2 linked regions of the Homo sapiens genome follow. The protein of the gene in region 2 interacts with the protein of the main gene of each other region in a biochemical or structural test. Each region holds a gene or a part of one and is shown on either strand. Other genes may lie near its edges. The genes, in order: PRKAB1 and SLC31A1.

Region 1 (8,323 bases), on a different chromosome or scaffold from region 2:
TGTTTTGAAATATGGACACATTGTGGAATGGCTAAATCAAGCTCATCAACACACGCAGAACATGCTTACCATGTTTTTGTGGTGAGAACACTTAAAAGCTACTTTTAGTGCACTGCTGATGGGCATGTAAATTAGTACAACCATTATGGAAAATGGCATGAAGGTTCCTAAAAAGTTATAACTAAAATTACCACATGGTCTAGCAATCCCACTACAGGGTAGATACTCCAAGGAAATGAAATCAGCATGTCGAGATATCTGTACTCCCACGTTCACTGCAGCTCTATTCATAATAGCCAAGACGTGGAATCAACGTAGGTGTCCACAATGGATGAATGGATAAAGAAATGAGGTACTGATACACAATGCAGTGCTGCTGAGCCTTACAAAAGGAATCTTGTCATCTGTGACAGCATGGATAAACCTGGAGGACATTAAGTGAAATGAGCCAGGCACAGAAAGACAAATCCCATGTGATGTCACTTATGTGGAATCCAAGAAAGTCGAACTCACAGAAGTAGAGAGTAGAGTGGTGGTTGCCAGCGGCTAGGAGTGGTGGGGGTAGGGAGATGCTGGTCAAAGAATACAACATTTCAGTTAGACAGGAGGAATACGTTCAAGAGATCCACTGTACAACACGGTGACTATTAGTAACAATGTATTCTTGAAAATCTCTAAGACAGTAGATTTTAAGTGTTCTCCCTACTGCTCTGTGCCTCAGTTTCCCCATCCCTAAAATGGGGGTAATAATTGCACCTACTTCACATGGTTGTTGTGAGGCTTGAATAAGAATACACGAAAAGCACTTAAGATTAGTTTGGGGCAAAATAAATGTTAACCCTTTAGTAGTGACAACTGTAACCACAGTTTACATTAGAGCTTAGTGCTACCTTGGACAGAGGGGTCCTGACATTCTCATATTCCCAGCCCCCTGGGCCACTCTCAGCTTGTCTATTCCCAGCAGCAGTCTCCATCAGAGAAGATGGCTAGTGATGCCTCCCTTTTCTAGAAAAAACAAAACCTGGCCAGGCACGGTGGTTCACGCCTGTAATCCCGGCACTTTGGGAGGCCGAGGCGGGTGGATCACGAGGCTAGGAGATCGAGACCATCTTGGCTAACATGGTGAAACCCCATCTTTACTAAAAATACAAAAAATTTGCCGGGCGTGGTGGCGGGGGCCTGTAGTCCCAGCTACTCGGGAGGCTGAGGCAGGAGAATGGCGTGAACTCGGGAGGCGGAGCTTGCAGTGAGCCAAGATGGCACCACAGCACTCCAGCCTGGGCAACAGAGCAAGACTCCGTCTCAAAAAAAAAAAAAAAAAAAAACAAACCTCACTAGCTTAGGAGGGCACTGAAAGTCATCTTACCCACCAACCTTTGTAAAGTTAGAGCTAAGGGAAGCAGTGTCAACTAAGTGCTTCTAAGGCAGAAGCTACATGTCCTTGAAACTCTTCACCTGTGACCTATTTGAGACTGTTGCCAACTCAGTGCTGGAAAGATGGTGGGCCCTGCCAGCTGAGGCGTGCTGTCCTTACCACTGGCCTCTTCTGGGCCTATACCAGGATGGCTACCCAGCTGCAGGGGCACTCCCAGCACAGGAGGTGACCTGAGAAAGGCAAGCCCTGTTGGGTACCCTGTAGGGTAACAAGCACTGAGACCCTGTCCTGGCAGCCCGGCAGGGACCACTGTAGGGACACCTGCATGTGTACACGTGCATTCCTCGTCTCAGCACACATGCCCTCCACTTCAGGGTGGAGTGTTCAGTAGCAGCATGGTTACTTTAAGCACCTCGTAAACAATGCCTCTTAAGAGGTAGCTTGGACCAAGCTGAATTCCTGGATTCCCAAGAATTACGGCTGTGCCATGCATCCCAGAGCTAGGCGGACTGGGCAGGCAATCCAGGTTAGATGGAACAGAAAACAGAATCACAACAGAACTGGCTGTTCTTCAAGATCCAGGAGGACACACACTTCTTTTCTGCATGTAATAATTTCCCGGAGGAGAAATGTGTGTTACCTAGATATCCCAAATTTTGATCCAGGAGTACTGATATTTCTAAAAGCAATTGAATGATTAAAACTAGATTCTAAAATGTGGGGGCCAGAGCATGTAGCTTACTAAGAAGAGATGGTGATACAGTTTGTCATGAAATGTAAATTGAACAGGGCTTAGACTGAGGCAGGCGTGAAGGACAAGGAAGAGTAGTGCAGAAAGGCTTTGCAAGACGAGGCAGCGGTGTCCACACTGGGAACCTCTTGTTATCAGCCCATCCCCACAGCAGAGGTGAACGGCACAGTTCACACTAGGGGGTGACACTGAGCTTGCTCACCAGCTGCTTTGCAAGAGGTGGACACAGGAAAGAAAGCAACTGAACATGACCCACGGCGGATGGTCCGGGCAGATGCCCACATACTTACGGAAATCCCCGTGTCCTTGTTCAGGATGACCTGGAGGAGATGTGGGGGGAGAATAGGGGGTGCCCGAAAGCGCTCTTCGGGTTTGCAGACGTAGGGCTCCTGATGGTAGGGTCCTGGGGGAGAACTGGACAGCTCTGTTGGGAGATGGTAACAGGACTTTACTTTGAAAATCAGGCATTCTAGGAGCAGCCTTACTTATGTTGTCATCATCTCATTTTCCTTGTCTCTTGTTCCCTCAATGCAGATTTACATTCTCTTGAAGGATGCACTGGTTCCAAGAGTGCAGAATAGAGGAGAGGAGAAAACCCTTTTGGAATCTGGGTGACTAGCATACAACTCAGTAGTCAACTCAGATGCCCTGGTGGAAGACACGGCCCAGCCAGTGAGTCTGCGTCAGATCACAAGGAGGCTATTCTCGATAACTTAATCCCACACGCACGGCAGAATAAGACTTCCTTCTCCCTTCAGGCTGGGCTGGCAAAACCACAAAGAAGCTGGAGGCTAAGTGAGGATTGAGTAGCTAAGTCCAAGTTATGGGCACCCCCGGCCGCAATGCAACAGAAGATGAGGCAGTCTGTTTACACAGAGGCCGTGGAGAAAACAGGCTAAACGAGGCACATTTCAAAATGGGGGGGAAAATTGAAAGCCCAATATCTAAAGGCTCTTTAACTCCATTACACTCAAGTTCCTTCCAAACTCTTGCTTGAGTATCTGGATTATTCAGATACACTGAGAAGCTGCTACAAGAGCAGGATTTCATAATGCTAGAACACTGGATAGTGACGTTTGGCCAGCCAGAAGGTACCAAGCCATCATCCAAAGAACGCGTGGGATGGTTCTGGTCGCCAGATCCTGGGACTGGTCCAGGGAAAATCTGCTATGCCCCAGCTCTGCCAATTCCCTCAATGTCATTTTTCAGGGGACAAGCCCCGTTTATGTGACCCAACCATATCACAGCAAGAAACTGAGAAAAGCATGAAGTGCAGAAAACTGAGCCATAAGGAGTAAATAACATTTTGAGGAAGTAAGTGTCGAAACAGAAGTCTGTAGAGAACGTGGAATTAGCTTCGTATCAGTGAGGGGTCCGTTTCCTTTCCCTAGGTGGAAATTTGACTAAAAAGCTTGTAAGTGGCTTAAAATTACATGTATCAGTAAGTTATATATTTTGGAGGATATTTGGGCACACTTCCTCCATTCCCTGATTCTCAACTATCTGCAAAAAAACTAGATGATATCTCTAAAAGACTAATTACCCAGATAAAAGCACAGATTTCGGATTTCCAAGTCCTGCTCAACAAACTGTCAACCACAGTGAGCCCATTGTGATCATTTTACCACTGTGATTTCTGAACTGGTAACAAGAAATCCTGGTGGCAGAACTTCCAGGCCTAACTAGACAATGATGAAGAACTCTCCTGTCAACGAACGGAATCTGTTTTCTTAGGGCGCCAGATATTCTGCCAGGGCATCTTTCCACTGCCTCCCTCAGAGTCCAGGAATTGTTAAGCCCCCGCCTCCAAGAAGGGGAACACTTTAGATCGCAACCCTCTTCCCCCGAACTGTATGAATCATGTTCCAGGTAGTTTCTTCCTGTGGGGCTTGGAGGGAAAGCAATTTATTGAAACCTCGATGCCTGAAAGGCTCTTACAAGATGGAGAAGTTTTACTGGGTCTGTATTTCTGTACCAAATAGCTTCCCATCAAGGAGAGTTGGGCTGTGCAGGCTGTTTCCCGTGGGGAGCCGCATCCTCCCCAAAGGGATTCTGACAAGGTGCTAATGTACCACATAAGTGACTGCTAAGGTCACTGAGGTGTCCATTTACACCTGTCAGGCTGAAATTCTTCAGGCACCACAAGTGGGATGAGACACAGGCTTCCCCAGTGCTGGGCTGTCACTGACTCAGTGCCACCCTCCAGGGCCTCTTCAGCCCTGCCCTTGGCACGAGATCAAGCTATGGTTCCATTTCTGCTGTCTGCGTTCTGTGGCCAAGCAGACCTACTGAATACCTGAGATGACCAGGGAAATGACTTGTAGCTCCCTTAGGGCTAAATTTCAACAACCTGACAGGAATTAAGTTCTGTGGCCTTTAAGTGGGGGCTATAAATGCCTATCTGACTGGGCAGCTTCAGCTCAAGAGAGGCAAGAGAAACAAGAGTATGTCTAGACTGTACAGCCCCCACCTGCACGCATGTGGTATAAAATAACTGTGTTCATACCAGACACATCGGAGCACTTTTGGGAATCCACCATTAAAGCATCAAATACTTCAAAGTCAGTTTTCTTCACTTGAATGATGTTGTTAACTGTGCCAAGCTGGCTGGTTACTATGGGCTGGGAAGAGACAGATAGGCAGAAATCATAACGTGGAAGGTCTGCGGAGTTATTCTTCAGAGGACTTGGAATTCCTGGCTGGAAGGCCTCATCTCCTGGCTAGCCACCCTGCTCATCTTGGTCAAGTATGCCAACTGTCTGACAGGTAGTGCTGCTACTCAGCTCTGCCACACACGGGGACTTTTACTAGCTGGGCAAAGGGACCTAGCGGCAATCTCTTGGGAAGGTGATTTGTTTGGAATGTGCGGGCACCCAGAGGACCAGAGGTGGGAGGAAGAGTACCTCGGAAGGGTCGTGCGTCCACTGACCATCCACAAAGAACTTGTACTGATGCTCTCCTTCCGGCAGATCCAGGATGGCTACAAAGTTATTGTGGCTGCAAGGAAAAAGGAAGCAGAGGACTTCCGTGGGGTGGGCTGCCCCCCGAGCTTACTTGCCAAACCAGCTACAGAACAAAACGTTTCCACATAAAACCAAGAGTTCAGCTGCAGGAGAACAAACATTTTTAGCCCATTTAGACAATTCAGCATAATGACCTCAATCTGAAAAGGCTATAAGGAAGCAGCAGTGCGACACAGTTTCCTGAAAACTCACCTTACTCAAATACCAGGAAACCACATCCCTAATGTTAAAAGGTCAACAGTCAGGCATTTGTGCGTCTCAAGCTCGCAAGGCTCCTGGATGCCAAGGAGGATGACAACACAAGATAAACAGAAGCTGCCTCGTTTTACCCTTTGTCACTTTGCCTTGGGCAGGAGAAGGGATCAATTGAATAGGAAGCTCAAATGTTCTCTAAAGAAACTTGCCTAATGACTGAAAAACCAAACTCCGGAAGAGCCCCTTCACTGGGTTGTTTTGTCCCCTGGCTTGAACTGACCTGTGACTGCTGTGCTGAGTGGCTCCCTCCTTCTCCAATGGAAACGCTGGAAAGCAGGCAGCCCCTGACAATAGGCCTGACACTTTCTCCCTCATTTTATCAAGAATACTCACTAAAGGTGTTCTCTCACTGACAACTTAAGACAGAAGTCCATGCTGGGGTTCCTGATAAAATGTCTTACTATAATCCTTGCTAATGACACCTACATAGCATGTATTTTTCTTTTCTTTTTGGAGACAAAGTCTTGCTCTGTTGCCCAGGCTGGAGTGCAGTGGTGCAACCACTGCTCACTACAGCACTGACCTCTCAGGCTCAAACAATCCTCCCATCTCAGCCTCCCGAGTAGCTGGGGATACAGGTGTGCACCACCATGTCCAGCTAATTTTTAATTTTTTTGTAGAGATGGGGGTCTCACTATGTTGCCCAGGCTGGTCTTGAACTCCTAGCCTCAAGCAATCCTCCTGCCTCAGCCCCCAAAAGTGCTGAGATCATAGGCATGAGCCCCCATGCCCAGCCAACATGTACTTTTCAAACAAAGTATTACGCAGAGTCAAAGTTAGATGAAACCTCAGAGATGATCTGGTCCAATATTCCCTCTTTACAGAAACGAACGCTGAGGCTCAGGTTAACTAACGTTAGGTGACTGACAGCATGGCCAATGTGGGCTCAAATGTGGGTTTCTAAGATTCCAGCCCAGTGCTCCCTTACTGCATTAAGACAGATTTTTGTGTTTCTGTGGAAAAGTCCTGACCGAACAGATAGCTGAGGATCTGAAGTGAAAGATGTCTGTGACACAGAAATATTCTCTTTCTTCTGTACTCTAAACCTAGAGACCACCAAGGTTTAACATTTGAACCTTAAGACTTATTAAGCAAAATTATTTTTCCACTAGGCATCCATTTTATAGAAACATCCATTTTCTGTTCTCTCTCAGAGATGTTTTAGAAAGAAGAGAATTTATGTTAAGACAAATATGTGAACACTCCCCAGGCAATTACCTTCTGGTGAGGGGAAGTTTACTCCAGTTGTTGAAGGACCCAGATAAGTAAACTTCCTTTCCGCCCCCCGTCCATCGAAACACCGTTGGCCGAGCCTGGGCGGGAGCTTTATCATTCACTTCCAGATCATGCTGCCAGGCCAGGAATTCCTCCTTCTCTGGTGCCTAGAAGCAGAGCAGTTTACTCAGAAAGCCATAAGCGAGCTCCCTACAACAGACAATATTGACAATTCATTCTAAAGACGCAGCTGTTACTATCTTGGTTCATGGTTAGGATCGGAAACTTACTAGTGGTGCCTCAGTTTCCTTGCCTGCAAAATAGAAATATATTTTTTAAGGTTGTGAAGACTGAGACAGTCCATGTAAGTGCTCTATATAGTGTCTGACACAGTGAGTGCTAATTATTAGCTATTGTTGTCATTAAAGAAGTTGACATCAAAATTCTAGAAGAAGCTATGAAACACACTTGGAAGGGGCTACTACGAATCCAAGACTAGCTTAATGTCATGTTCCTCCCTTAATCAAGCAAGATTTGAAGTACAGTCATGTGCATGATGTCTTAGTCAACGACGGACTGTGTATATGGTAGTCCCATAAGATTATACCATATTTTTATTGTTATCTTTTCTATGTTTAGATACATTTAAGTACACAAATCCTTAAATATACTTGTGGAATAAGTGTCTACAGTATTCAGTAGAATAACATGCTGTACAGGTTTATAGTCCATAAGCAACAGGTTACACCATATAGACTAGGTGATACGGTTTGGCTCTGCGTCCCCACCCAAATCTCACCTTGAATTGTAATCCCCATAATCCCCACGTGTCAAGGGCAGGACCAGGTGGAGGTATCGATCATGGGGGCGGTTTCCCCATGCTGTTCTCTGACAGTGAGTGAGTCTCATGAGATCTGATGGTTTTATAAGCATCTGGCATTTCCCCTGCTTGCTCTCATTCTCTTCTGCCGTCCTGTGAAGAGGTGCCTTTTACCATGATTGTAAGTTTCCTAAGGCCTCCCCAGCCATGCGGAACTGAGTCAATTAAACCTCTTTTCTTTATAAATTACCCAGTCTCGGGTATTTCTACATAGTAGCATGAGAACAGACTAGGTTTGTGTAAGTACACTCTATGATGTTCACACAATGATAAAATCACCTAATGATGTATTTCTCAGAATATGTCCCTGTCATTAAGTGATGTATGACTGTACATGAAAATTTAAGAGGAACAATTCTAGAGCTGTCAACTTGAAAATAGGCAAATCCAGATTTTGAGGAAGGGAAAAACTACTCACAAAGTTCTGTCTAGGGACTGGGGAATAAAGCAAGACAAAGACTGAACCCTCATTAGGATAAATGATAACCTCCAGTGTGGTAAGCTCCGTATAACTGAGGTATTCCAGAATAAGAAATAAACTCATCCAAATCTATCTGGATGACATATGTAGTCATGCACCTTTTAGATTTTTTCCCAGTCAGAAGCCAAAGACTTAAAAAGAGCAGAAGGTTCAGGCTGGAAAAGACTCTTCAGGGAGTTAAGCAGGCTTCTAGCACCTTCATCTCAAATACCGACCTCAGCTTATCCAAATGATGCCTGTATTCTTTGAATTCTAACAAGATCTACATATTAAATAACAGACTGGAATCACTTCACACTAAGGATAACTAATTATGACCAAAATAGCACCCTAGTGTAGTTAA
Region 2 (8,323 bases):
TATGTTGAATCAGGTGGTCAGTCATTTTTTTCAATTTGATTCCCATCTGTATCACATTTTCTTTGAAATGTTTTAAAGTTTCTGGCTTCTTTCTCCCTGTTTTCTGACTATAAATAATGCTTCTTCATATTCCTATGATAATTTCACTAGGATTTTGGGAAGGAAAAGAGATGAGTTCAAAACGCCATCTTGAAATGGAAATAATGATACATTATACTAGGTTTTTGTCCATCTTTTCTATGTTCCAATTTTGTAAGAGTAGTAGCAATTCTAAGCTATAACATAGAACCATGTATTCTGTGGTATTGCTAAAAACATAACGAAGGAACTGTTTTCAGGGCTACTTTCTAGAAAGTTTGTAAGCTTTTACAAGTTGCCCAAATAATAGGAAGAAGTCCAGTGAGGCACCTAGTTTCAACTACCCAGCAGCAATTTTCCCTGGGAATATGGCATTGAAGAAAACATTTGGAAAGGTAGGACTGCCTAAGTGAGCTGCATGTTAGACCATATAATTCTGTTATCTGTAACTTTACAGGAGTTATAGTCCACATGTGGGCCTGGCTATCGCCTATCCCAGAGTTTATCAGAACTCTTCCACAGAGATACTATGAGTACTTAACGTATGGCCCATAGACAAGTTTTTAAAATCTAAAATAAAAAAAAATCAACACTAATCAAACTCTATCTTCTAAATGTCCAATAAGCTAGAGTTCATATTCATCTAATATTCACTTTGATCTTGATGATTTCATACACATAAAATGGAATTCATGTGAATAAAAAGATACATGTGTATTTTGAATTATACATTCCAATGCTGTTCCTACCAGGTGTGCCTAACTCCACAGCTACCACTAATGCATAACTAAATAAATAATTTCCCCATTTTTTTTTTTTTTGAGACAAGATCATATTCTGTTGTCCCGGCTGGAGTGCAGTAGCATGATTACAGCTCACTGCGGCCTACACCTCCTGGGCTCAAGTGATCCTCCCACCTCAGCCTCCAGAGTAGCTGGGAACATAGGTACATACCATTATGCTCAGCTAATTTTAAAACTTTTTGTAGAGAAGGGGTCTCCCTATGTTGCCCAGGCTGGTCTTGAACTCCAGCCCTTAAGTGATTCTTCTGCCTCAGTCTCCCAAAATGCTCGGATTACAGGTGTAAGCCACCGTACCCGGCCCCCAATTTTTAAGCGCAACACAAAGAATGGCAGCAGGAGCCAGAAAGATAGGTGTGTGTGCGCATTTACTTAAACATAGGCAGACACAGACTCCTCTTCAAGATAATTTACTTGGTCTCTTGTCCTTTCCTGAACCAAATTAAGCATGCAAAGGGATGGCTTGATAGGTGTGTCAAGGCTGAGCAGGGAAAAGGAAGGATATGGCACTTGAGAGGGGAGCAAAGTGAGGTCAGATCACTTTGACATCTACCTCAATTCAACTCAACAAGTATTATGAAGTACCCTCTGCCCCAGAGGCTATAGGGAATTCAGAGATGGAAAGGATGGAGGCTCTGGCTTAAACTTGCTATTGAACAGGGAAAATTTCACAAATGGCTTATTGTACCTAGAAAGAGAATGAGGGAGGTGAGATGGGGAGAAAAGAAAAGTTAGTAGGTTATAGTCAAGAAAGCATGAGGGGCTGATACAATTCTGATCTGCTTTATGGTCCCTAGCTTCCCCAAAAGACTAGTGACTATAGTAAACAATGTTATTGTGGCTATTTCAAAATATCTAGAAGAGAGAATTCTGAATGTTCTTACCATAAAGAAATGATAAATGTTTGAGGTGATGTATACGCTAAACACCATCGTTTGATCATTATGCAATTTATATACGTATTAAAATATCACACTGTACCCCATAAATATGTACAATTATTATGTATTAATTAAAAACAAAACAGGCAGGGTACAGTGGCTCATGCCTATAATCCCAGAACTTTGGGAGGCTGAGGTGGAAGGATCTCTTGAGTCCAGGAGTTCAAGACCAGCCCGGGCAACATAGTGAGGCCTTGTCTCCTCAAAAAATCAAGAAAAGTAGCCAGGCGTGGAGATGCATGCCTGTAGTCTCAGCTATAGGCTGAGGCCATAGGATCTACTTTTGTACTACTTTGGTAGGCTGAGGCAGGAGGATAGCCTGAGCCAGGGAGGTTGAGGCTGCAGTGAGCTGAGATCGCGCCACCGCACTCCAGCCTGGGCGACAGACCAAGACTCTGTCTCTCAAACAAACGAACAAACAAACAAATCCCCAAAAGATTAGTAATTGTTATGGTATCATACACTTTGTAAAGTTATCACACACCTCATAACCATCCAAAAATTTGGGAAGACAGTAAAACACAGACAGAGGCAGATATTTGTTAGGCTCTCTTTGTTTCATCTTTCCATCTTCACTCCCTACATAAATTGTAATAAAGAGCAAATCTTCTGAATCCTCTACTTGGTAAATGCTAGTAAACATAGTTGGGAGACAGTCTCCTTTTGTTCTGAGTTTATAATATTCACCTTGCAAATAGCTTGAATAGTATTATACTGAAAAGCAATAGAAAAATCTACAAGACCATGATGCAGGTGACTTTAGTGAAGTCTGCAATTCAACATAATTTTGGAGAGATTACCTATTCTTGGCTCTTACTTAAGACTTAGTTCTGAATAGTAAGAGATAAAAATTAAGATATTACCAAGAAAATGATACTTTTTCTTTTCCACTAATCATTTTCAGTTAAAGTCTCATAGAAGATCAAAACTAGAACAGTCATCAGTCTGCCCACATTCTTTAACACAGTAATCCCACTTCTAAATATTCATTCTACAGATAAACTGGCACATATGTGAAATGTGTATGTACAAAGTTACTTATAACAGGAGTGTTTGTAATAGCAAAATATTAAAAATACAACCTAAATGTTCATTGATAGGGCACTGATTAAATGAGTTATCATATTTTCATACAATGGAATACTTAGCAGAATAAGAATGAGAACGATCATATATATTGATATAGAATGATCTGTAAGACGTATTATGAAATGAAATAAAAGCAGAATATACTGTATGCTATAATTTGTAAAAAACTTAAAAAGGAAACAGAGTATGTTCATGTTATTTTTATACACCTATACTATCTGCAGGGGAGTTGGGGGGAAACAACAAAGTTGTTGGTTGAGCCTGGGAGGCAAAATAGGACCGTGGTCCCTAAGGAGAGCTGGTCAGAAGTGGGTAGGAGTAAATGAAATACTTTTCACTGAATATCCTTGTGTACTTTTTGAATTACAAACCATATGAATATATTTCCTATTTAAAAAATTAAATTATCAGTCAGGCGCAGTGGATCACGCCTATAATCCCAGCACTTTGGGAGGCCATGGCGGGCGGATCACCTGAGGTCAGGAGTTCAAGACCAGCCTGACCAACATGGAGAAACGCCATCTCTACTAAAAATATAAAATCAGCCGGTCGTGGTGGCACATGCCTGTAATCCCAGATACTAGGGAGGCTAAGGCAGGAGAATCACTTGAACCCAGGAGGCAGAGGTTGCAATGAGCCGAGATCACACTATTGCACTTCAGCCTGGGCAACAAGAGCGAAACTCCAACTCAAAAGAAAAAAAAAAGTATCATCAAATCCAACTCCTTTATTTTACAGATGTGGAAACTGAGGCTTATGTTATTAAATGATGACACTAACATTCTTTAGTTAGGTGAATCCATAACATCTGCTTCTGATAGAAGGCTCCATAACACTAGACTAACCGCTTTCTCCAGCCCCATTTCTCCGGATGGCTTGCTGGGAAGCAGCTAAGCAGGATGGGTTTCTGAGCTTTACATATCCTGTTCTGGTGGCAAATAACATAGAAGCTCCTATTTCTCTTGCCCACTCCCACCCTTCTGTACAAAGAAGATCAAGTGTACAACTACATTCTTCCAAAGGCCTTTACAAAAGCTTTTATTTGCCTGGTTCTAATAGGACAACTCAAATTTGATATGTCAAACAAACAAACTGAAAAGGTCTTTTAGTTATGTAATGATAACAGGGCCTAAGTCCAATGGGGAGTGGATCTCCCAGCTACTTTACTCCATTTCTGTGATACCTTTTGTTGTTGGGTAAGCCACATCCTGGAATAATGTAATCACATGATGCACCCTTTCATGCTCCTCTTACAGGATCCTTTTGTAGCCTTGACGCACTTCCAGTCCGCTAACTGTGCTTTAGTATGATTTATGTGACAATTTCAGTGTTTTCTAGATAGTATCTTAGAGTGGAGAAAGCATGCAGCACGAGGCATCAAAGGCTCTGAGCTCTGGACCCACATTTGCCATATACTAGCCATGTGACATTAGGCAAATCACCAAAATTTGCAAAATTTGCAAAACAGATATTAAAATACCTACGCTGCCAATCTCATAGTATTGTAAGGGTCAAATAAAATATGTTAAATACTTTCCAATTTTAAGGTACAGTAAATATGAAATATAATAGCTTGCTTGCTCATTAGATGACAAAATTAATCTCTGAAAGGAACTAAGTCACACATAAGGCTCACTTTCATGTTTCTTGAAGTATACAGCCTTTCACAGTTTGATTTAAACAAAACTAGCTAGTCAGACAAATATACATTGGCAAAGCATTGCTTTAACTGCTTTATTGTTATAATCAAATGTAGACAATGGTCCTCCTTGTCTAAACTTTGCTTTAGTTATATTACATAGCATTTAAACTGTTTGGATAATAATGTTGTTGGTTTGCCTATGAGTAATATTGGAAATTAATATGGCATAAGACAGAAACTAGAAAACATTTGAACTGTTCCCTTTTTTTTATTCAGTAGGAAAATGCAATTAAATATGTTACACAAGATAAAAGGAACTTGAATGATTTAATGAAAATGCAGTACAAGAATGCAAATGAGGCTGGACATGGTGGCTCATGCCTGTAATCCCAGCACTCTAAGAGGCCAAGGTGGGCAGACTGCTTAAGCTCAGGAGTTTGAGACCAGCCTGGGCAACATGGCAAAGCCCCGACTCTATCAAAAATACAAAAAATTAGCTGGGCGTGGTGGTGCATGCCTGTAGTCCCGGCTACTCGAAAGGCTGAGATGGGAAGATTGCTTGAGCCTGGGAGACAGAGGTTGCAGTGAGCTGAGATTGTGCTCCTGCACTCCAGCCTGGGCAACAAAGCAAGATCCTGTTTCAAGAAAAAATAAAAGAAAAAAGAAAAAAATTGTTCAATATCTCAGATAGAGGCTGTATGGTGTGGCAGTAAAAGTACTGGGCTAGGAACTGAAAGAGGTTCTACATCTGCATTCTAGATCTGGCTCTTAGGTCTCATTTGCTATGCAATTTCAAGGAACTCAGACTATTCTTTCACTATTTATTGCATACCTATCGAATGAAGGTACCATGATGAAACTCTAACCATAAGAAACCCATTCTGGTGAAAGAGGGACACATGTAAATAATTTAAAAATAATGTAAAATGTACTAAGGTATAGATTATGCATAGGGGTTGTGTGAGAACTCATAAAAAGCCATCAGAAAAGGTAGGAGAGAGGATGCGGGTGTATGAGTTACACCATTTCCCTTTCATTTCATAAATTAAATGACTACATTCTAGATGCTGTAAACTGCTTCAAAATTATATAAACACTCATCATAGTTCTACAATAACTCTTCTATCTAGGGAAATATGTCACCTGTTGCTAGAATTTTGCTCTCTTTATATGTTCCCTCCAAATCATTTCTCATATTTACTTTTGAGATTCAGGCTTCCATCTTACCATGCTGTATTTCATAATGTCCTAAGCCTACAAAAGCAGGTTGTATACAAAAGCCTAGGGCCATTGTGTAAAGGAAAAGAGGTAGGGTGGACCCTTCTCAACCCTTTCCTTCTCTGCAGGGCTTTGCATTCCTAAGGATGGGCCCCTCCTCTGCTTGGGGATGTTACCTAAATCATAAAATGATATTACTCAAAGCAATGGAACTTCAAAAGCATTTCCTTCCCAGGCCCTACTATAAGATTTCTTTTGGCATAAACTGTTCATTGTAATGTATTAAGTATCAGACTTTTGATGACTTGTTATACTTAAGTCACAAAACTACAGAAAACTTTTAAGTTTTTAAAATGGATTTAAGAGCTGCATGTGGGAGTACAGGCATCAGGAACCCCCTACCCCTTCCCTCCCTTTTCCCCAGTCAGGCCTGCCCTGTCCACTTTAAAATGCAGTTATTTGGGTGATGCCCTGTTACTAACTTAACTGACAACTGCTAGTTGAAATCAACTTGTCACTGTAAACACTTTGCTTTCTTTATTTCTTTTTTTTTTTTTTTGAGATGGAGTCTCACTCTGTCGCCCAGGTTGGCGCACAGTGGCGTGACCTCAGCTCACTGCAACCTCCGCCTCTCCGGAGCTCAAGCAATTCTCGTGCCTCCGTCTCCTGAGTAGCTGGGACTACAGGTGCCCGCCACCATGCCTGACTAATTTTTGTATTTTCAGCAGACACGGGGTTTCACCATGTTGGCCAGGCTGGTCTCGAACTCCTGACCTCAGGTGATCTGCCTGAGCTGGGATTACAGGCGGGAGCCACCACACCTGGCCGAACACTTTGCTTTTCTAGTGATTATTATATCATCTTTCTCTCTTGTAGCACTTCTGGTGGGAAAGGTGCAAAAAGGAATTAACAGTAGAGATGAGTCTCTGATTCCTAAGTCCTTCTCTACCAAGACTTCCAAGTTGGACAAAAGAGGTAGAGAAAGACTTAGGAATCAAAGACTCTTATGAGTATGGTATCTACTTTCAAAACAGTCATTTCATTTTATTCACATTTAGTATGGAAACTTTATTTTTCTCAATTCAAAATTGAGATTATAATCCAAAGGAAAGCTGAATTGAAAATTTTAACAGATTAATACCAGTGCCCCAAGTGGTGTTTACCATGCCTTCACAACAACCTCATGTTCTAGGGGCCATTAGAAAATGAAGTGGCTACTGACATGGAATGGAGCTAGGGAAATGTAACTTTTTACTTCATACACTCCTAAGCCATTTGAACTTTTTTACATCAATCATGCCATTTAGAATAAAAAATTCCACTTCCTACCAATCTAAGTACAAACTTGTCACCTTGACCTTCAAGGTATTTGACAAATATGGTCCTGGATTCCTTTTCAATTTTAATCCATTACTTTCTTCTGTGAACTGTTGCCTTATACTCTTAGCAAACTATCCCACAGAACTCTCTTATCCAATTTAACTGACATCACACCATTAGGCTATTCTCCAATGTGATGGGAACAACACTTCTGGTTCCCCCTCTGTGAAGTGTGCTTATCAATGGTGACAGTGTGTTTATTCACAAACCTATTTATGCCAGTTGTGCTTATTACTGAAAGTACGTAAATACTATGTAAAGCAATGAAGTATAAATGAGAAGAGAAAAATGACAGCAGCAATTAACACTGAGTACTTACTACCTGCCAGGCACTGTTCTAAATGCTTTACATGAATTAACTCCTATAATATTCACAAGAAACCTAGAAATGGATACTACCATTATGCCTGTTTTACAAAGGCAAAAACTGAGTAACTTGTCTATGGCCTATACAACTAATAAGTGGCAAAGCAATTTGGCTCCAGAGCTCAAGTACTTAACTACTGTACTACATAGACTCTCTAGTAGTTATTTCTAAAACACCACACTGAATGCTTTCGAAAGACCAGATAAAAGTGAGCACACAAGGCCGGGTGCGTTGGCCCACGCCTCTAATCCTAGCACTTTGGGAGGCCAAGGCGGGTGGATCACCTGAGGTCGGGAGTTCCAGACCAGCCTGACCAACATGGAGAAACCCCGTCTCTACTAAAAATACAAAATTAGCCGGGCATGGTGGCACATGCCTGTAATCCCAGCTACTCGGGAGGGTGAGGCTGGAGAATCGCTTGAACCCGGGAGGTGGAGGTTGTGGTGAGCCGAGATTGTGCCATTGCATTCAAGCCTGGGCAACAAGAGCGAAACTCTGTCTCAAAAAAAAAAAAAAAAGTGAGCATACAGATAACACATAAACTTGCTGTTAGGTGTGGGAGACAACAGAAAAGTCTGGAAGGACATTTCATAAACACCTAGAAAGATTCTGCAGTGAGACTGCTTTGCAAGTGACTTTAAGTATTCATTCCATGTTAAAAATACCATAGATAACGTAGGCCAGGGGCTAGCAAGCTCTTTCTATAAAGGGCCAAAAGTAAACATTTTAGATGTTGCAGGCCATGTGGTTTCTGTTGCAATCACAAATATTCAATTCTGCCTTGGAGGGTAAGAGGAGTCATAGACAA

Evidence for each region.
Region 1: of the proteins of SLC31A1 (region 2) and PRKAB1, one has a biochemical effect on the other in vitro, tested with the Homo sapiens proteins (one study listed by BioGRID).

Annotation. Positions count from the first base shown.
Region 1 is NC_000012.12:119,670,764-119,679,086, reverse strand, and holds part of PRKAB1 (5'-AMP-activated protein kinase subunit beta-1), read right to left. Parts: intron 6,787-8,323; coding exon 6,623-6,786; intron 5,124-6,622; coding exon 5,030-5,123; intron 4,748-5,029; coding exon 4,633-4,747; exon of another isoform or gene 2,661-4,632; intron 2,551-2,660; coding exon 2,417-2,550; intron 1-2,416. UniProt on the Homo sapiens protein: Non-catalytic subunit of AMP-activated protein kinase (AMPK), an energy sensor protein kinase that plays a key role in regulating cellular energy metabolism.
Region 2 is NC_000009.12:113,224,140-113,232,462, reverse strand, and holds part of SLC31A1 (high affinity copper uptake protein 1), read right to left. Parts: intron 1-8,323.